Homo sapiens: one gene and its partners. The protein of the gene in region 2 interacts with the protein of the main gene of each other region in a biochemical or structural test. Each region holds a gene or a part of one and is shown on either strand. Other genes may lie near its edges.

What was found.
Region 1: the proteins of KLHL15 (region 2) and RBBP8 form a complex in vitro, tested with the Homo sapiens proteins (2 studies listed by BioGRID, with this or other methods).
Region 3: the proteins of KLHL15 (region 2) and PPP2R2B form a complex in vitro, tested with the Homo sapiens proteins (one study listed by BioGRID).

The regions. Positions count from the first base shown.
Region 1 is NC_000018.10:22,929,470-22,936,503, reverse strand, and holds the start of RBBP8 (DNA endonuclease RBBP8), read right to left. Parts: upstream 3,177-7,034; 5' UTR 2,940-3,176; exon of another isoform or gene 2,240-2,939; intron 1-2,239. UniProt on the Homo sapiens protein: Endonuclease that cooperates with the MRE11-RAD50-NBN (MRN) complex in DNA-end resection, the first step of double-strand break (DSB) repair through the homologous recombination (HR) pathway.
Region 2 is NC_000023.11:24,024,007-24,031,668, forward strand, and holds the start of KLHL15 (kelch-like protein 15), read right to left. Parts: upstream 3,181-7,662; 5' UTR 3,134-3,180; intron 1,053-3,133; 5' UTR 851-1,052; intron 1-850. UniProt on the Homo sapiens protein: Substrate-specific adapter for CUL3 E3 ubiquitin-protein ligase complex.
Region 3 is NC_000005.10:146,588,732-146,595,936, forward strand, and holds part of PPP2R2B (serine/threonine-protein phosphatase 2A 55 kDa regulatory subunit B beta isoform), read right to left. Parts: intron 4,332-7,205; coding exon 4,240-4,331; intron 1,496-4,239; coding exon 1,216-1,495; 3' UTR 1-1,215. UniProt on the Homo sapiens protein: The B regulatory subunit might modulate substrate selectivity and catalytic activity, and might also direct the localization of the catalytic enzyme to a particular subcellular compartment.

The DNA of each region.
Region 1 (7,034 bases), on a different chromosome or scaffold from region 2:
AAATTATCTCAATTATATTAAACAGAAAGGATTCAGATATTGAGGGGTTTTTATCATTCATGGTCAGTATTAATTTACCACTATAGACTAATGTATTGTTTTGGCTGGGGGAGATGGCTCTTGCCTGTAATCCTAGCTCTTTGGGAGGCTGAGGTGGGCAGATCACTTGAGGCCAGGAGTTTGAGATCAGCCTGGCCACCATGGTGAAACCCCATCTTTACTAAAAATACAAAAATTTGCCAGGTGTGGTAGTGCGTGCCTGTGGCCCCAGCTACTCAGGAGGTTGAGGCAGGAGAATTGCCTGAAACTGGGAGGCGGAATTTGCAGTGAGCGGAGATCGTGCCACTGCATTCCAGCCTGAGCGACAGAGACCCTGTCTCAATTAAAAAAAAAAATTGGTTTTTTTAACTTTTGAATTGGTGAAACATACTGAGCCCAAAACTGAAAAATATTCTTAGTCTTGACTTAACAAGCATCCACATATATACACATATCTATATATATTTTATAAAAGAGACAGTTGACTGATGTATTAACACAGATGAGGATCTGTATAACTTTCCAAAAACAAGAGAAGTCAGTAAGATTTAAACACAGCAAAGATCTATGAATACAGAAACATCTTAGAGTCATAAGACAATTAGGGTAATGTTACTTCATGCCTCTCTTAGAATAAAGGTGAATCATTAAGTTTATTACATAGTCCTTGAAGAAACCAACAGGTTAAGAAGTTTGAATGGATTAGTAAATATTTTAATATGTGTTCTTAAAATGAAACCATTAATTAGCTACAACTTAAAAAGTAATAGTGATCAGCAAGTCTACTAAACCTCACATCTGGCTCCTTAGCCAAAGCAAACTGATTGTTTCCTGCTAACCATTTCCTGAGGTCTCTGACAAAGGGGCTGAAAGAGTAATTCTGAAGGGAGCAGGAGTATATGTGAAGCCACTTGGTGAACCGTCAAGAGCTACAAAAATAAACTATCAAGCTTTGCAAAAATTGTGATTAGACTTTTAAAAAATAATCCAGAAACTAAATATGAGCTGGATTTTAGATATTAGGAAATTATTAATTTTCTTGGGTATGATAATGATGCGGTTTTGTTTGTTTTTTTTTTAGAAAGGCCTTATCTGTTAAAGGGATATTTACCGAGATATTTACAGGTAAAGGGATATACTCTGCGATTTGCTTGAAAAAAAAAAAATCCAGCAAAAACAAACAAAAATGGATGTTGGGTGAAGAGATGAAACAAGGGCTGAACTTCAACAATTTCTGAAGCTGGGTGGGTGCGTATACAATGGGGTTCATAATTCCAGTATTTCTCTTGTGTACATTTATTTCTGTAAAAAAGTTTTTAAAAGTAGAATTAGGTGCACTGCATTAGTTTTGTTACCAAAGAGGTTTTTATTCTATCTTTAACTCTAACAGATAAACAAATGGGCCTATATATAATTGTGAATAAAAGTCACCATTTGTTTCCCACATACCAGAAACTATAGAATATTAATATTAATATTTGTATTTATATATTATTTAATATATAATTATATATTATAGAATATTTATATTCTACCTAACCTTCAGAAAAACTCTGTAAGACAGCTACTATAATTTCATTTTAGAGTTGGGGGAAGAGGCGTAAGGCAGTAAATGTCCAAGGTCACACAGCTGGGACATGGCTATGTCAGGGATGGAAATCAAGTCATGAGACCAATAACTGTAAAATACCTCTCTGTAGCCCGCATGTTCTCAATCATAGGTGGGAACTGAACAATGAGAACACCTGGACACAGGAAGGGGAACGTCACACACCGGGGCCTGCCGTGGGGTGGGGGGAGGGATAGGATTAGGAGATATACCTAAAGTAAATGACGAGTTAATGGGTGCAGCACACCAACATGGCACATGTATGCATATGTAACAAACCTGCACGTCGTGCATATGTACCCTAGAACTTAAAGTATAAAAAATAATAATAAAATAAAGAAAAAATACCTCTCTGCAGCAAAAAGAAAAAAAAAGAAGACATAAACGATTTCTATTAAGTCAACAGTTTAAAATGAAGGTTTAATTACTTCAATGACCGAAAAAGTATTAACATATTCGTTTAAAGAGTGTAAAATAAGCATCCTTTACGTATCTATCTTCAAGTAAGTGATGTACAGTGCCTTAAAAACAAAACATAAAAACAAAACATTCAACTTGCAAATTCTGGCTCGCAAAACCCTTTCCACCTACCCGCATGCCCGGCACTTTTTGTTAGCATCTCTCTCTGCAATGAACCGTTATTCGAGGCACGACGACAATGTACATTTTTCAATCTCTCAGAACGTCACGTCTTACCTCCCAAGTTGCATTCTGGGCTCAAAGGCCTGTAATTTGTGTGTATTCCTTAGTATAAACCACTACACTGCAGGTGCTCACCAAAATACTCGCTGCCACACCACAGGTATTCTCACACGGGTAAGGCGAGAGGCACATTTCATCACACAGGGGACTTGAACAAACTGCACGGGACATTTCAGGGGTCCTCTTATGGGCGGAGCAGAGCAGCGGGGCAAAGGCTTTCCAGCCAGGTCCCTTCTCCATCCATTTCTCCCCAGGTGCCCGCGCCGGTTCCGCGTGCGGGTCTGGCCAAAAAACCTCCGAAGCGCGCGCGCGAGCCGCAGTCGGCGCATGCGCGGGGCGGGCTTGGCGGCGAAAGGCGCTTCCTCAGCCCGCGCGGGAGACCCAGAAGTAGTACTGAGGTAGCGCTCGTCCTCCCGCCGGTCCACCACCACCGAGTGTAGCCCGGGCCCGGCCTATTTCATCAGACACAACCCCAGAGCCGGGAGCCACCCCTACCCCGGGAGCCCTTCGCCAAGCACGCAGCTCCAGACCAGAAGCAGTCGCTCCGACCCAGAGCTCCGGGTGGGGTAAAGAGATTGCTTTTACTCACCGCCTCCGAGATTGCCTCGGGATTCGCGAAAGCCCCCGAAGGGAAGCGAGCACTTTCTGAGGCTGTGAAAGGACGGCTGCTCGCTTTTCTCTTTCGCCCTTTTCCCTCACCAGAGTGCCAAATCCTCGGTGGGAAAGCCGACCCCTCCGGACAGCCCGCGCTTTAAGGCCGGGGGCTGCCGGCCGGGCTCGGAGGCGGCCGGACCCGCCCCGCCCGGGAGCCCGCGCGACGTCACGCGGGAGTTCCACTTGCGTCACGCCCCTTCCTCCAGCTGCCCATCGCGGCGGCGCACTTCGTGCCCTAGCTGAGGAGCGGGCTCTTCGGTGCGGCCCATCCCGGAGGGCGATGGTTGGGGAGGGGAGCGCTACCTCGGAGCTGCCGGGAGCTACCCGAAGAGTCTGGCGACCGCCACAGCATTTCTGAATTGCGCTGGGGAAAGCTCAAGCCGTTCTGTTGGGGGAGCATCAAGCCCTTGCGGTTCTGTGAAAGTTATCTGTACACTGTGTCTAGCTTAAGCATTTTGCAGGGAAGCATGTGTAGAGTGACCTGTACCGAATGAAGAGTTAAAATTAACTGATGGGGGGTATGGACGCGGATCCGTCTAACATAGTTTTCGGCCTTGTCGCTGTTATCTGCAGTTTAGTGATGTGACCTGACAGGGTTGTGCGGTAACGCCATAGATCAAAACGATCTGTATTTTGCTGAGGTTAAACGGGAAGTTTCTGGCAAATTTGAAACGAGAAGGAATCTCCTTCAGCATTATTTATTGGGACAACATGCTGTTAGATAATTTTTTTTAAAAAGTCCATTTTTCTTGTGGCTGTTCGTTTGAGATTCAAACCGATAGTAGGTATTCCTATTTCTCCTGATTTGTAAAAGAATCGTTTTTAGACCACTAGAAATTCTACAAATGAACAAAATAGACTAGAATCAAATATCTTTTAAACCAGTCCAGTACTTTTGTGTAATTATTCTAAGACCTGGGAAGGGATAATATTAACAGGCTTTAAAAGTTTAGTACTTAGAAATCATAAATACAAAGTGGAAAGGTAATTTTTCCACCTGTCCCACATCTTAAGGGATGAATAAATATAACTTAAAAAGTTAGTATACAGAAGAGGGGTGCTAAACCTTCTATTAGCCTGTTACAGCAACTATCATTCACTTCCCCATTTTATAAGACTTAACTCCACATTTTTAAAAGAAAATGGATGAAATTTTGACTATGTAATTTTTAACGCAAGATAGGAAACATAATTGACAGAGTGAAGCTTTTATGTTTATGACAGAAATAACCTGTAATAAGTTTGTCATTTAACAGAGTATTGAAAGAGCAGTGTGCTGTGGTCTCTACTGTGGTCCAAAGAAAAACTGAGCAGAATGACCCAACCTGTTCCTATGGCCTCTGCCTGTGTCTCACTCTCTAATCCATTTATGCAAGTCAGAAACCAAAGAGTCATCCTTGACACTTTATTCATCCCTAACTTCCATATCCAAGCCATCACGCAGTCCAATTTTACTTACTAAACATGTAAATCCATCCCCTTCTCTCCATCACTACCTCCATAATCCAAGATACTGTTATTTCTTACCTAGTCTACTGCTAGGCTCCTTTCCACATCCACGCTACCAACCACCCCTCCTAAATCTTTGTTTTCACTGGTGTTCAGAAAAAAATTTGAACTTCTATTCTCCATATATATATTTAATTTTAAATTACATACATGTACTGTTGAAAAATGGTACATGATCTAATGAAGTTACAGGCTCTGAAGTCAGACATCTGGGTTTAAATCCTGCTCTAATACTTCCTTACTGAGTGACTTTGGACTGACTGCTTAAGCTCGCTGTCCCATTTTACCTACCTGTAAATTGAGGATAATAATAGTACCAACCTCACAGGGTATTAAGATTAAATGAATATATGTAAACTGCTTAGTATTCAGATATATACTATGTGCCCAAAAGCTAGCCATAATTAGTATTTCTTAGCTAATATGATTATAATCCATTTTAAAAGCATTTTTAAAGGATAAAAAATAGAATAAAAATACATCTTCCCTCCTCCACCTTAAATTGTGTCTACTTTGAGACCACTTCTCTATACTGCAGCTACTGTGATCTTGAAAAGTAAATCTGTTAATGTCACTATGCTGCTTAAACCCTTTCAGTGGCTTCCAGTTACTCTGTGAAGGAAGCCCCTTTGAATTGCCTCTGCTACCCCTTTGGCTTTATTTCCAGACATTTTCTGTCCTCTGGTCTCACTAGACTTTTGATGTCTCCTAGGCCATTGCGTGCTATTGTCTCTGCCTGGAGTTCTCCACCAAACCTACCCCCACTCTTTGCCCCAGCTATCTACTAATCATGTTTTTATCTTATTTCAATAGTCTCTTCTACTAGATCCTCCTACAGTACCATGTAACCTCCCCATCTTACAGTTTTTATTGTTTTAGTTATTTAATTAATTCTGTCTCCCCACTGGACTGTAAATTTCTTGAGATAAAAAACCACGTCTTGGGCCAGACTTTGGGTGGCTGAGGCAAGAGGATCACTTGAGGCCAGGAGTTCAAGATGAGCTTGGGCAACATAGTGAAATCTTGTCTCCTATTCTAAAAATCAAACCAAAATAGCTGGACACAGTGGTTCGTGCCTCTAGTTCTAGTTACTGTGGAGGCTGAGGTGGGAGGATTGCTTGAGCCCAGGAGTTCAAGGCTGCAGTGAACTATGATTGTGCCACTGTACTCCAGCCTAGGTGACAGAGCGAGAGACCCTGTCTTAAAATTAAAAAAATAAAAAATAAAAAAGGTTTGTTCACCCTTTTATCTCCAGGAACTAGCCCAGTGTCTGCCACCAAATCAATATTCTATGAATGAATGAAATGGGCATTCCCTGGTGGATCCCATTTCTATGTAAATGGAAACCTTTGGGTACATTCAAAATTCTTAGATTTTTAAATGAGATTTTATATGGCCACTTTAACAATGGAAATGGCGGGCATCCTCATAGATAGGTTCTAAAGCTTTAAGAACCACATGGAATAAATTTTGAGGTTCCAAAGATCTGCTGAAAAAACATCTTTAACAGAGAAGCAGTTATTTTGAACTCTTCATAATACTGGGTTTCTCATATGTTGTGGCTTAGGACAGTACTTCCCAAACTTTTTCAATTTCAGCATGCTTAGAAAATGAACACTTGTGTTATATATTGTAATGAAAAGATGAGGCTGCTTCCATCCAGTGGCAACAGAAGTTGAGACTAGTCACCTCAGGCCCAGTGCTGCCACCTTCAGGGCTAGGTTTTTAATGTCCCAGCACACCTATTGGAGGCCCCTGGCTAGAATGCTGAATTTAAATAAACTAGTGAAATAGTTAAAATGGTAAGTTTACATTATGTATATCTAGGCACCAATTTAAAATAAATTGTGTGATAGCAGTACAGACTCTAGGATTCTTAAAAGTAAAGTTTTGGAACTCACGTAGATTTAAAAGTCATCTAACTCAAGCCATTTACAAATGAAATCCTGTAGATTCTAGAATCTATGCTTAACTCCTGCAGCTGGGTAGTTGAGTGTTGTGAAGGGAAAATGACGTATCACGTTAGACTGATATCACTAAAGTCATATGGTTTCAAACTTCATGCAGGGCATCAGTTAATCCTTAAAATAGCCTTTGTTCAGCTCTTTTTATTTTCTCTGCTGTCTTCCAGACCTTTACTATTTTCAGTCCTCAAGCCTCTGAAGCTATTTTCACTCTAGGTGGACAACCTGGCCTCCTGATTAAACAAGACAATTGAGCTCCACAAGTGTGATCTTCCTAAACTTGCTTTTTTCTTTCTCAACCCTACGAATTAGGCAAAACCATTTGCAGTTAAAAATACAACCTGAGGCCAGATAGGGTGGCTCATATCTGTAACCTCAACGCTGTGGGAGGCCCGCGGGAGGCTCACTTGAGATTTGAGAAACTGCAGTATAGGCTGAATGACAGCCAGAACCTGTCTCTTAAACACACACACATACACACACACACACACACACACACACACCCGCCTGTCTCTTCACACACACACACACACACACACACACACACACACACACAC
Region 2 (7,662 bases):
ACAAAGGCAAACAAATTCGGAAAACAGAAAAGACTAACAAATGTAAGGTGTTAAATATTTGGAGTAAGAAAAGGGGCCTAAAGCGGCCTAGAACGATGAAAAGCAAAGCCCCTACGGTAACGTTACATTTGAATTAAAGAATACCGTTATTTAAATAAGCAGTTAGCACTTCGTAGGAGGAAGGCCAAGCAACGTGACTATTACAGATCTATGGATTCACAGCACTGCTTTACTATTATTCCGTACTTATTTGCTTATATTTATAATATAGAAATAAAGAGGCAGCAACAGTTAGCCACTACATTAACCACTCTACCAAAGGTTACTTAAAAAACGGCCTTGCATTCTTACAACACTCTACAGTTAAGGATTATTTTCACATATATGACCTCATATAGTCCTCTCAACCCTGCGATGTTGGTAGTACCGACTATATTTCATAGATAAGAAACCAAGGCTCGGTACGCGATTTTTTCTCAGAGTCACCCAAGTCGAACCCAGACCTTCCGATTCCTAGTTTTATGCCTCGCATTTTGCATAGTTCTATTTCAGGCATAAATTGAATTGTTAAAGGGAAGGAACGGGTTAGGCAAAAAATAATCATGGTACCTGCAGCTGTGTGCTGCAAAAAATGGCTGAATTATGCTTCTTCCTTTTTCTTTCTCGCTCTCTCTGGAAAAAAAAATTACATTTCAAACAATTTAAGTAAACTCGAAGACAAACGAGGTCCCGGCGTCTACCAAATGTTTGACTCGGGTCCGTGCAGAGAGGGCCGGCGAATTCGTGCCTAGCTCGGGGCCGCGGGCGAAGCCCGGGCTCCGCAGGCCGGCGGCCAGGGGCGGCTACGTACCTCGGGGGGTCCTGTCCAGCCTCTAGTGGACGGCAGTCTGCATCAGGAAGAACCGGGCCAGCGGGCCGATGGGTGGGCGGTCGGGCGCCGGGACGGCACTCGGCAGGCTCCTCGGACGTCTACGAGCAGCCGCTCCCGGCACGAGCCGGGTCGCTCCGGCGGGGCACGAGAGTGCTCGCCTGCAGCCCCCTCTGGATAAGTCCTGGGAAAGAAGACAGCGCTGAGTCGAGAAACCAGACAGTCGGGCTCCGCACGAGGCGGCGCGGCGTCGGGGCCCGGACCGACCTTGCCAACGCCGGGGGCCTCGCAGCACCCGACGGGGCTCGGCGGGAGGGCCGACTGGGGCCGCGGGCGGGGAAAAGGGCTGGGGGGCAGCAGGCAGAGACAGAAGCACCAGCCGAGGAAGCGTCGAGGACGGCGTCTCTGGGCTTCTGCCCCGAAGCGCGCCGAGCCTCGGGATCACCCACGCCGGGGGTGGAGGAAGGCGGGAAAGGGGCGGGGAAGGGGCGGGGCGTGCGGGGCCACGAGCCGGGGGCCGCTCCGGGCCGCGCGCCCCCTGCGGGCCGCGGGAGCCGCCCGGGGCCCGCCCAGGGAGGCGGGGCTGGCCGGCAGGGGGCCCAGTGCGCTGTCGTCTTGACGCGGAAGGCCGCCACGCTGGGAGAGAGGGCGGAGGGTGGGAAGCCGTTGGGGGCGGGGAGCTGGCCCGGGAGGCCCCCCCCTCGGCCCCTGCTGGCGCCCCGAGGGGGCCAGCCCGTGGCCTGGCGGGTGTTTACCTTCCCCCTGGTCGAGCGCCAATGCCGCCATCTTTCAGCCCAAAACGCGTCACTTCCGGCGCCACGGGAGCGGGAGCGGGTGTGGGAACGGGGGGGAAGGGGGGGCGGGGAAGGCTGTCCCGCGCCCGCGGCGCCCCGCGTCCCGGCTGCCGGCCCGCCACGCCAGCGGTTTCCCACCGAGGAAAACAGGCGGCCGGGCGTCGCGGCCCTGGACTGGGCCCGACGCAGCTTCCCCCGCGGCGCCGCCGTCGGGGCTGAGGACACTCAGCTGTCCTCGTCCCCTTGCAGCGGTCTCTCTCCGCCTGCACGAGCGATGGGCCCTGAGCCACTGCGGTGCGCCCACCCTCGACAAGTTGAGGGCTAGGAAGCCAGGAAAGTGTCTTTTTGCATCTTGGCCACGGTGGGGGTGGGGGAATCGGGGACAACGTGGAGGGAGCTTTTCCATAGCTACCTGTTATAAAAGTGACTAGATCTGCGCCAAATGACATCATTTTTTGTAAGGCAACTTGCAGTGGACTATTGCGTCACTGTCCACTTGGCTTACTGCACAACAATTACACGTTTCAGAAATCGATTTCCCAAGGGTGGGAAAATTCATAAAAAATTGCATGTCTGCACCACCCGGAGATAATGCCGGATTTAAAAAAGCTGTCTCTACTTGCGTCAAAATAATCAAGAACGAACATTCAGAGGGCAGTGATTTTTGTTGTTCGTTTTTTATAGAATTCTAGCTAGTACTTTTTAAATATTACCTTTTCTTGACAAGAATATAAAACTAGACTATAGGACTGTTTTGTAAATTTATTATGGCATCTCTTTCTGGGAAAAGTGTAGATGACGGAAATACACAGTTGGAAGCCCGTGGATCTACAATTAACCTTAAATTAGGGCATCCATTGCCCATAGCAGATCCTAAACTGAGGTATTTCGGCTTCCCCCACCCCCACCCCCCGCCGCCATTTTCTCTCTAGACCAATATCCCGATGAACTTTCCGTGAGAGGTGTCGCTAAAAGCGATAATTATCTCTTTCTAGCAAACTTGAACATACCATCTTTCCCAAGAGGCCAAAATAGCACACGGTGTACTGTTTTGCTGAAGTAGACTACTTCGTGGGAGAGATAACACAATCACTTCAATCTTTTGGAAATACGCTTCCTTATTCCGATTTAAACTATAACAAGCTTTAAAAAAACTGTAAGACACTGAAATTCCCAAGTTGTTCACACTTTCTTTCCATCTTTTCCAATAGCTCCTTTAAGATATTTCTGTTCATTATTTAAAAATCCCTGCTTGCCATATTTGTATCTATTACTACATGACAAATTACCCCAGAATTTCACATTAAAACAAATTTTTAAAATTAAATCATAAAATAAACTTTAAAAATGCATACATTCCACTTCTGAATATTTAAATGTTCATGCATTATTCCCGAACATCTAAACGCTGAGTTTGGATTTTTGTACATTAACTAACATTTTAAGCTATACATTACTATGTGGCACTGACCTGTCTAAAGAGAGGCTTCTGTTCTTGATTCAAGCAAGAGTTGAAACGTTTCTGCGCTCTTTGTACCAGGTATAAATGTAGTGAGTGTATGTCATAAGCCATTGTGTGATCACCGTGCTTCCCGTCCCTCCTTATTTTGACATTGCAAGGTCTCGTGGAATTTCAAATGTGCTTTTTTGGATATTTATGTAGTTTTAAAACTGGGCTGTGTCTTTCAATCAATCTATACGTTTACTATATGAACCCCTCCCCAAGTTATCTTCAATCAATGATGCCTCTTTCACTCTTATTTCTTATTTTTATGTTATTATTATTATTTTTTTTTTGAGACAGTCTCACTCTCGGCCAGGCTGGAGGGCAGAGGCATGATCTCAGCTCACTGCAGCCTTGACCTCCCGGGCTCAAGCAATCCTTCCACCTCAGCCTCCCGAATAGCTAGGACCACAGACGTGCCCCACCATGCTCGGCTAACTTTTCTTTTCTTGTTTTTGTTTGTTTGTTTGTTTTGTTTTTGTTTGCTTGTTTTTTTCTGAGATGGAGTCTGTCGCTCAGGCTGGGGTGCAGTGGATCTCGGCTGACTGCAACCTCCGCCTCCCGGGTTCAAGCGATTATCCTGCCTCAGCCTCCCGAGTAGCTGGGATTACAGGCGCTCGCCACCGTGCCCAGCTAACTTTTGTATTTTTAGTAGAGACGGGGTTTCACTGTGTTGGCTAGGCTGGTCTCAAACCCCCGACCTCATGATCGCCCGCCTTGGCCTCCCAAAGTGCTGGGATTACAAGCGTGAGCCACTGCACTCCAGCTCAGGCAACAGAGCAAAAACACCGTCTCAAAAAAAAAAAAGAAAAGAAAATATATTTTAACTTTCCCCACCAATTTCTGGACTGTAATGGGAGTTGTTAAATACCTTGAGAGTATCCTTTCACACTGGTAGAGTCCCACAGAGGTAGATGGAAGCTGTCTTTTCTTAGCCCTCTAGCCTAAGTATTTGAGAATACACATTCCTCAATAGCTATTTATTTAGCAGCTAGCGAGGTCGGAAGCATGCTAGAAGCCTGGGCCTGGGAGTGCTGGTGGAGTTGGAATGAGGTTCTTCCCCAGGGGTTCTGAGGATTTAGGATACTGCATACCCTCCTCCTCCCTCCTGTTTTTGCTTTTTAAGAAATTGAGGCCAGGCGTGGTGGCTCACGCCTGTAATTCCAGCACTTTGGGAGGCCGAGGCGGAAGGATCATTAGAGGTCAGGAGTTGGAAACCAGCCTGACGAACATAGTGAAACCCCGTCTCTATTAAAAATACAAAAAATTAGCTGGCATGGTGGTGCGGGCCTGCGGTCCCAGCTACTCAGGAGGCTGAGGTAGGAGTATGGCTTGAGCCCAGGAGGCAGAGGTTGCAGTGAGTCGAGATTGCACCACTGCACTCCAGCCTGGACAACGGAACTAGACGCTGTCTCAAAAAAAAAAAAAAGAAAAGAAAAGTTGAGGCTTTTCAGAAATTCCCAGTCTGTGGTAGTTGTCTTGGTAATCACTTTTCTTTTTACTTTTTTTTTTTTTCTTTTTTTTGAGACAGAGTCTCCCTCTATCATCCAGGCTGGAGTGCAGTGGCGTGATTGGCTCACTGCAACCTCTGCCTCCCAGGTTCAAGTGATTCTCCTGCCTCAGCCTCCCAAGTAGCTGGGACTACAGGCACACACCACCACGCCCAGCTAAATTTTGTAACTTTAGTAGAGATGGGTTTTCCCATGTTGGCCAGGCTGGTCTCGAACTCCTGACCTCTAGTAATCCATCCACCTCAGCCTCCCAAAGTGTTGGGATTACAGGCGTGATCAACCGCACCCAGCCACCCCATGATCTTTCCACTGTACCATGTAATTATATTAACATAGTAAATGATCTTCACATAGTTGTATTTTTATTCCTACTTAATTCCACAAATTGTTGGTTTGCAATCTACTATACTATTTATTTATTCATTCCATAAGTATGTGTAAGTGCCTAGTACATGCCAAGTCTTGTTCTACCCACTGGGGATCCATCAGTGAATAAAACATATGAAAACTCTAGCCCTTGTACGGATTACATGTGTCAGGTAATAAAATAAATAAGCAAATTATGTGGCCTGTTAGAATGTGGTAAATGTGGCCGGGTGCGGTGGCTCACGCCTGTAATCCCAGCACTTTGAGAGGCTGAGGTGGGTGGATTACTTGAGGTCAGGAGTTCGAGACCAGCCTGGCCAACACGGGAAACCCCATCTCTACTAAAAATACGAAGAAATTAGCCAGGCGTGGTGGCACATGCCTGTAATCCCAGCTATTTGGGAGGTTGAAGCAGGAGAAGTGCTTGAACCCGGGAGACTGGGCGAAAGAGGGAGACTCTGCCTCAAAAAAAATATATATTATTTTCATAGAAGTTTTAATGACTTATGAAATTGTTTCTAATATAATCTTATGTGAAAATGCAGGACAAAAAAAAACTATAATTGCACTGATCACAGTAACACTGAACCCTCAGAGGTAGTTTTCTGTTGACTCCTTATTTTCCTGAGTATGGGTCACACTTTGCTGTTTCTTTGTACATCCTGTTTCTTTTAGATAATATGTTGTAGCAACTCTGGACTCTGTATTAACCCACTCCCAATCCAGGTGGTGGTAGAGTTTGCTATTTTTAGATTTGTTGTTTGTGTGGTGGTCAGCCTGGACTAATTCTGTGGCGTCTATTCCCCAAATCGGGATGTGATAAATGCTATGGAAAATAACAGAGCTGGGGAAGGGTGTTCCAGTTTTAACTGGGATGATCAAAGTAGGAGGTATCATTTGAGCCTTGCCTTCAATGAAATTAGGGACCAGAGTGTATAAAACCTGGTAGGCAATTGTAAGGTCTTTGGCCTGTGAGAAATTGGGAACCACTGGAAGCTTTGGTGAAGAGGACCAATATGATTTGACACTCAGGCTGCTATGTAAGTAACAGAATTTAGGTGGACTAGGGCAGAAGCAGGGAGATGGGTTAGGAGACTATTCCGATAATGGAATGGAATGGAATGGAATGGAATGGAGGCTACAGTGGAGATGGTGAGAAGTGCTTAGACTTTGCAAATATTCTGGAGGAAGAGCCAACAGGATTTCCTGGAGGTAGGGATAAAGGAAAAGAGAGGAGTCATGGATAACATCAAGGTTTTCTGTCCTGAGCAACTGGAAGGATGGAATTGTCATTTCCTGACATCGCAAAGACCTCAGGAGGATCAGTTTTGAAGGGAGTGGGGAGGAAGGAAAAGCTGCAAGGACTGGGCCCAGAGGTGTGCCTGGGCCAGGGAGCCATCCTGGAGAACAGAGGGAACTGGTTCCAGGAGATCAGACAAGAGTGTGGAATGCTACAAGCTAGAGAGAAAGTTACTGGAAGTTGCTAAACATTCACTATCAATAAAAGATGCAATGAATATTGCCATTTTAATGGAATATATTTACCTTGAAACATGGTGTAGACAATGCCCCCTTGTAGATGAAAACCTTAAAAAGAAAGTTATCATCTTTGTGCTCCTTATGAACCAATGAAAAATAACATTATGCTTCAGCTTCAGTTATGAGATTATCAAGGGGCTGAGTGTACAGCGAGGACTGGGCTTTGTGGCGCAGCAATGTGAGGGAGTCATCCGGGAGAAGATACAGGACTGTCAAGGAGACAGAGAAGGAGTAGCCAGTGAGATAAGAGTAAGACAAAGAGTGTGCTATGCTAAGCCAGATAGAAAAGTACTGTAATTGCTAAACATCCACTATCAATGAAAGATGAAACGAATGTCACCATTTTAACTAAATCTATTTACTGTGAAATGCAACGTAGACAGTGCCTCTTAGTAAATGAAAATGTTAAAAGGAGTAACATACCCCCTTTCCCAAAATTAATCATTAAAAAAAAGTTTTTTTAAGAGATGAGGTATCCCTCTGTAGCCCAGGTTGGAGTGCAATGGTGCGATCATAGTGATCATAGCTTACTGCAGCTTCGAACTCCTGAGCTCGAGGGATCCTCCTGTCTCAGTCTCCTGAGTAGCTCAAAATACAGGCTTGAGCCACTGTGCCCAGCAAAATTAATCACTTTTAAGTTCTTTATGAACCAATGAAAAATAACACTATACTTAGAAGCCTCAAGATACGAGCCACATATTTGTTTTTTTTTTTTTTTTGAGATGGAGTGTCGCTCTTGTTGCCCAGGCTGGAGTGCAATGGTGTAGTCTTGGCTCACTGCAACCTCCGCCTCCTGGGTTCAAGCGATTCTCTTGCCTCAGCCTCCCAAGTAGCTGGGATTACAGGCACCCACCACCACGCCCGGCTTATTTTTTGCATTTTTAGTAGAGACAGGGTTTCACCAGGTTGGCCAAGCTGGTCTCGAACTCCTGACCTCAGGTGATCCGCCCGCCTTGGCTTCCCAAACTGCTGGGATTACAGGCGTGAGCCACCGCACCCAGCCCAAGCTACATATTCTTAAGTACTGCATTTCAGTAGATGTGTACCCAAACATGCACACATTCTAAGTGTGAGTGCCAG
Region 3 (7,205 bases), on a different chromosome or scaffold from region 2:
CACTTCATGTCACAGCTGCTTGATTTCCCCACAGTTCATTTCTGTAGAAGAGAGCCTTCTGGTCTGTTTTTCCAGATGGCGAGCTTGGGGTGAGTTAGAAGTGCCTGATTGGACTTCACAACTCAGCGTTTTTATTGGCTATTTTTGTTCTAGGTACAATGGAGGTTGATGGATTGTTACTTTTGGTTACCAAAACCAGGAGGAGGGGAGGGTGCTGCTTAGGAGAAACACCCAAAAAGAACAGACCAGCCTTTCTCAGGGACTCAGGGGTGGTGGCACTGCTTCCAACTTACTGCTTCATTTAGAACACCAGATAATAAGCACCCAGGACTCGGCCTTTAGAAGTCAATGGAATAAATAAGCTGGAAAAGGTTGAAGAGAAAAAAGCCAAGGAACATGTAAGTAGAAGATTATATGGAGCCATTTAAGAGCACAAAAAGCAAGAGTAACAAGGCAGCAGATGGAATTTGGCCCCGCCTGGCCCTGCCAAGCTCACTCTGGGAAGCACTGTGTCGAAAGTGCTCTCTTTCTGTCCCCTGAAGCATTCAAGTTCCCTAGCCAAATTCTCAGGCTGTTTCTATGGAGCTTACAAAAAAAGAGCATAGCAGGGTTGATGTGCCCTTTCCTTGTCATTCTGCATCCTCTTCTCAGCTTCATGCAATAAATCTCTGGCTTAAATGAAATTGTTCAAAGGAAAATGGAAAATGGAAAAAAAAATGGTGGAGGGGCAGGAGATACTGACTAGTTCTGGTTTTTCACAAAACAAGAAGAATTTGTCTAAGAGTAAACGGTGTTTATTTTTTGTTGATTTTTTTCAATCAAATGGAATTGCTTAATTAAAAAAAACTTATCTCTTTTCTCCTTAAATACTACAGACAACCTCATTTTATCGCAGCAGACACCTAGGAACAAAACACTGGACCCACCAGAGAAAACTGGGCAATAAAAGCATCAGAAGTTCAAGTCAACTATGGAAGAATTACTGTTAGCTGGCAGCTTTCAATTCTAAACAGAAGTGTCCCAAACCTATTGGGTTTGACAAAAGTTTCTTAGAACTGGGGAGCTGGGAATGTTGGACTCCTTTTAATTCTATTCCAATCATTTCCTGTATAGGGAAATTAAAGTCAATGCATCAAATGAAGACCCAAAGAAACATTTAAAAACTTGTTTGACTAGTATTCAGTATGTGAGATTATTAAGTAATAACTTGTCCACCTAGTTAACCTTGTCCTGGAATATATATAGGTTATTTGTAGCCGCCACTGCTATAATATTTTCTGAAGGATGCCAAGCTGTATGCAAGATCTTTTTGCTAAAGTCCAGACTGTCGACACTGATCTCGTCTTTTCTCCGCTTGCCCCCCACACACACTTTTCGGGGTTTGAGGATAGCCCGGGGCTTGCTGTTTTCCCTCGAAGCCTCAAGGGTCACATCACGCTTGGTGTTTCTGTCGAACATCCTGAAGAAGTTGTTGTAGGAGCCTGTCATGATGACACTGCAAGGCAGAGAGCAAAGGCAATGACATATCTTCACTGTCTTTTCTTTTTGGAGCAAATGATACCATGTTATGGCCAGCTTATGACACCATAGGTTTTATTAAAAACAAAAACCAAAAAATGAGAACAGGCTCTGCAGTGTGATTATTGGCTTTTTGTTTTTTTTTTGTGTTTTTTTTTTTTTTTTTTGAATCACTGAAAGCAATAGGATTTTTGGCTGGGTTTGGAAATGAGGGATGGTGAGAACTCTCCTTGTAATTTGCTTTTGCTCAATAGATTCTTTTTGCTTCTTTGGCTCAGAAAAGGTGTCCACTGGTTTTAATGATCCCAGTCCTACCTACCTCCCATCAGGAATGTGAGACTAGAATGAGGTTTGTCGAAGTAGACACACTTTTGAAAACAATAAGCAGTTGTACGTGTTTAAGGTTTGGCCACTGTCAACAGGGTTCCTGGGCCGTCTGGCCTCTAAGGCTTCATGGCATCAGTGCAGTGAGGGGAGAGATGCTAGTGGCATCGTGCACGAACCCGGGGCGCGACCTCTCCCCTGCCGAGAACTAGCTCTGAATTCGGCCTTTTTAGAAAACTTATCTACGAAATGGATGTCATCATGGTCTTATCTAGGAAACAAGTAAGGAAATTCAAATTTTAAAAGAATCTGGGATGGAGAAATAAAAAGATTTTATATGGTTTTTTTCCCACACTTAATGGACAGATGGTTTCCACATTTTTATAAGTTATCCCCTCTTAGGCATAGCTGCAATCGATCAGGAGAGTGGCAAACACCCAATGTCTTCCAGAGGCAAGGTACTGAATGTTTAATGGTGACATTTCAGACACGGTGACAAGCTGAGGTGGGGAGGGAGAGATTCCTTGGGCCAGGGCAAGTACCCCAAGTGCCATCACACGGTGGTTCCCCTGGAGTGGGGGGCTCCTACTCATTTCTGGGTGGAGCTCTGACTGGCTCCTTAAGATGGGAGAGCAGGAACTCTCGTGTATTTCTCAAATGATTTGGGATGTGTAGAGAGGTGAAGGAAAAAGCTGACAAGATTGGGCCACAGCAAGGGGGATGTGTTTTTGGGCACGTTGTCACCTGTACCAGGTAAATTAAGCAAAGGTTAGATTTTGTTACTCTGGCTCATCAAACTGATACTGTGAACTGTGTCTGTGTACTCGAGTGGACTGTTATCACCTTGTCAGGCAGGGCGCTGAGGGCTTTGCCTCCATGATCTCGTTTCAACTTCTATTATCCCCTAAAAGGGTTTTACAGAGAAGTAATTTGCTCAGTGTCACATTGCTAATTGGTGGTAAAGTCCACCCTCAAACCCACATATGGTTGACTCTGGGGCATAAGTATTCAGCCGGTTGGCCTCACTGCTTCCCATACTTTGACGTTTGCTTGCCCACCATGACCCGACTTATTTTTAAACAAGTAAGAGATTATTTTCCAAAAAAAAAAAAAAAAAGACTACCAACCTTATCTGAAAGAGAAATTAAACTTCCCAGTTGTGATGTTATAGAAAGAGTGTTGATCTTAGGATTCAAACTCTAAACTTGTTACTTTTGTCTCTACTACTTACTACTTTATGAGGTTGGGCAGATTACTTTATCTTGCTAAGCCTCAGTTTCCTTAACTGTAAAATGAGAACGATGGAAGCAATCTTGTTAGACTGTGGTTGGGATTAAATAAAATGATGTGTACGAATGTGTTTGGTATATAGTAGGTGCCTAATAAGTGTAATTTTTGAATCAAGGCTAAGATAGAGGAAAAACTTGAGCAATAATAACAGATATGTAAATAATAATATATGAATAAATAAATACCTATAAATAAATAATAAAATGAGAGGGCTGGCTTCTTTTTCCCATGGTGGATTTTGTTCTTATGTCACAGTTGCTTTGCTCTCTGTCCTATACCAACTGGTCAGTGTGACTTGGGTCCTTTGCCACGTGGAGACTCCTTCCAAGCCTGCTAAGGAGGGGATTCATTTTGGATCAGTGGCAAAGAAAGCCAAGAAACAGGTGGAGTGTGAGAGAGAGACAGTTCATATTCACTGAAAGCTTGAATCTCTGAATGTCTTGCCATAACAGAATTTCTATGCTTTCAAACACTATTATTGGTGCCACCTTCATCAAGGAACGAAATCAGCCCCTGGTAGCTTGCACTTAGTTCTCATGGAAATCAGAGAATCATTTGTATTTGTCAAACTAAAAATGAACTATTGGGAGGTATTATGAAGCACTGTTCAAATCAAAGGCCTTAAAATAGTAATAAATCACTTTGAGGGAATGTGATAAATGAGGTTGACTAGAATTCAGTTAATGAACTACCAGGGCCGTTGGCCAGGTCTCCACTAGCAGCTTCAAGGGATAATTTTTGATCTGGAAAGCCTACTTGGCATTAATCTGAACTGTTCAGGCTGGAATTTGCTGGTGGATAAGTGATCTTCATTTAGGCATGTTGACCTAGTGCTGGAGGTGTCTTGTGTGAAAAAGATAGGACTTTCTTATTAACATTAAGGTGTTATCTGTGCCAGTTCAGAAACAGGATTCAAAGGCCTTACTACATCCTTCTCTTCTTTCCAGCCTTGACTTCAAGGGTCACTAGGGGCCCACATTATGCATTTCAGCCAGGTTTTGGGGCCCAATTTTGACCTCCCTTTGGCTGTACTCTACTTAGGATAAATTCCCTGAGCCTCTTCAAGACAATCTTTGGAAGGTTCTTCAGCCACAGAGCCTTTCTTACCTGTCTGACCCATTCCACACACACTCAAATTTATCAAAAATGCAGTCATTTTCATAGAGGGAACACAGCTTGCTGCGGAGGTAGTCATGAACCTGGAGAGGAAACATATCGAGAAGGTCAGTTATTATTTTAAACAGTAATTATTTCTGCAAACACCTCCTCTTCTGATGTGAGCTGTTAAATCTTTCATTGTACATGCTCTTTGAATCAGATGGCCTTGGATCTGAACCTAGGCTTGGCCCTTTTAGCTGTAGGACATTAGGATGGGTTGATGAGCTTCTCATGTAGATGATATGGATTAATCAAGCTTGCTTGTATAGACAGTGGCATCCAGTAAGACTAAATAAGTGGTAGATTCTCATTTTCTAAGCTGATTTGCTCACAGGCATTAGAGATCACCATTCATGCAGTCTTTTATTCAACAAATATTTACTGAATACCTACTACGCACTTGAGATGCAGCAGTGAGCCAAATATCCTTGCAGTGCTTTTGACCCAGTGTCAGGTGACAGATTATATAACCAAGTAAATAAATAAGATGTTTAGATGGTGATAAAATCATAGAACAAAAGTGTATGGAAAAAGAGCCTGGGAGATCTTGTCGGGGGTGTATTATTTTATACAGGGCAAGTAGTCAGGGCTTCACTGGATGAGGTAGCACTGGAGCAGAAGCCTGCAGGAGATGAATGAGCCACAGTGATGTCTGGGTTTGGGGTGAGGGGAAGGCTCTCCAAGCATAGGAAACAGCAAACATAAAGGCCTAGAGGCAGGAATCCTGGAGGGAGTGTGGTGGGAGAGGAGTGAGTAAGCAGCTGGGGGAGAGGATGATCAGTTTACATAGGCCCTTTATTCTGAGGAAGAAGAGACCTCACAGAAAGGATTGCTGAATCTGCTGTGTTGCAATGGATCCTAAGGGTGCAAAGGCAAAGGGAGGGAGACCAGTTATAACCTGAGTGATAGATTCTGGCCTGGACCAGGGCATGAGCAGTGATGGGGACTGGTCAGATTCTCCTTTTGTTTAGGGAAAGAGCAGATAGGACTTGGGTCAACTCTGAGGTGTGGAGAGAAAAACAGGAGTCAAAGATGACTCCCTGATCTTTCTCCTGAGCAAGTGGAAGGAGTAGGTACCATGTTCACTTTTGGGTACAATGGTTTAGAGATGTCTACATGTGGAGCTGTCGAGTAGACTCTGAGGTGAAAGGTGCTGTCCTGGAGTATGTGGCGATTCTTTCCTGGTTTCTCTTTTCCAGTGAAAGCAGCCAGCATGGTTATCAACTAAGAGTGAGCAGGAGAGAGAAAGGGTTGAGAAACAGTGTCAGATTTCTGGAAGGCACCAGGGGACACTTGACGTTGTTGGACATGTATGTCAAATAAGGCTCATCAAGCATAGTTGAATATTTTTCTCCAGCTACATTCAGCAACTCAGCTGTAGATGCCAAATAGATGAATAAGGTTCAGAGAGTAGTAGCCTGGGTTCTCTGTTTTGAAGGTAATCCTTCCTGAACCCACTAGCACGGAGTGGCAATAATAACGGGCATACCCAATATGCTGGCTTGTCATTATTAGCCAGGTGCTTTATCTGTCAAAACCTCATTTCATCTCTAAAGCCATCTTATGATGTAGGTACTTTCATTCTCTTTACTTTAATGGAGCATGAAGCACAGAGATATGACATCATTTGTCCAAGATCACACAGAAAAAGTGACAGAAGGGGAGGGAACTGAGCCCCGGTATCAGGCTCTGGAGTGCACACTCTGAGCTGCACTAGCAACCTGCCTCCAGCTTGCTCTGGTGGGTCCTCAGTCCTTGACAGGAGCTGTGATAATGAACTCAAGTGAGGCTGAGAGAGAAGGAGATAGAACTGTGTGAAAGCAGAGGGAGGCTACCAAGGGCATTGGTGTTTAAGTTAAGAGTGATGATTCGATCTCTTTTTTCCTGCAACTGCGGCTCTTTCTCTTCCTTCGACTCCAACAGTTCTGCTGGATGCAGAGCTTCAGGCTCTTAGTCTTGGGCAAAGGAACGAGGTCAGGCTCATCCTATGTTCCATTAGATGTTCTGGGTATTTGAAAAGCTCTGAGTTATTTGGACAGAGGAAGTTATTTCTAACTCTGCAAATTAATTTTCCCCCACCTTTACTCTCTCACTTCCAAACAGTTCCAGGCCTTGTCAGGGTAACAGCTTCAGTGCTTTGGTGACAAGGGAATACCCCTACAGCAGTGCTCTTGGCATTGTTAGGTGCATTTGGGGGCTGCAAGGGTGAGGCTGTGTCCTGCCCTTACAGAGGCATCTCTGCTATAAACTAACTCATTCACCTTCACTAGGGGGCACAGCAGTAAAGGTATATAAACTGGGCAGTGGCAAGGTTTTTAAGGTCTAGTTCCATATGTCTGCTTTGTGATGAACCTTTCCTCATCTGTCACCATTCACCTTCGGCATTTTGTCTTATTACTCACCTGCAGTGTTTCTATAAGTGTCAAAACATGTGTGCTTTGGAAGTCACGCCCATTAGCAGGAATGACATTGCTGAGAACTCTGTAAATAATTCTTGAAAGATAGAAGTTGGGATAGATTCAAGGGAAAACCTAGTCTGAACCATTATTTCTCCACCATACCTAAGGTCTGGGTAGCTCCTATCTGCCTCCAATTGACAGCATTTAAAGAAAAAGAATGTCTACTATGAAGGTATGCTGTATTTATGTTTTGTTGCACAGAAAAAAAGTCTTCTTAGGCAAACCAGAGGGACCTTTTTCTACTAGAGGAAAGAATAAAGTGAGATGTATACATGAGCAACCTCTAGAGCTTGGAGCAAGAGAGAACTTAAAACTCATCCTATTTGATGTTCTTTCTTCATGTTCCTAGTATGACTTTTCTATGATCCTATTAATTTGTGCATGGGATTTTGGACGCCAGACTGAGTGTCCCAGTACAGTGTTTCTCATATTTATTTGTGGGAGTCCAGTGTCATA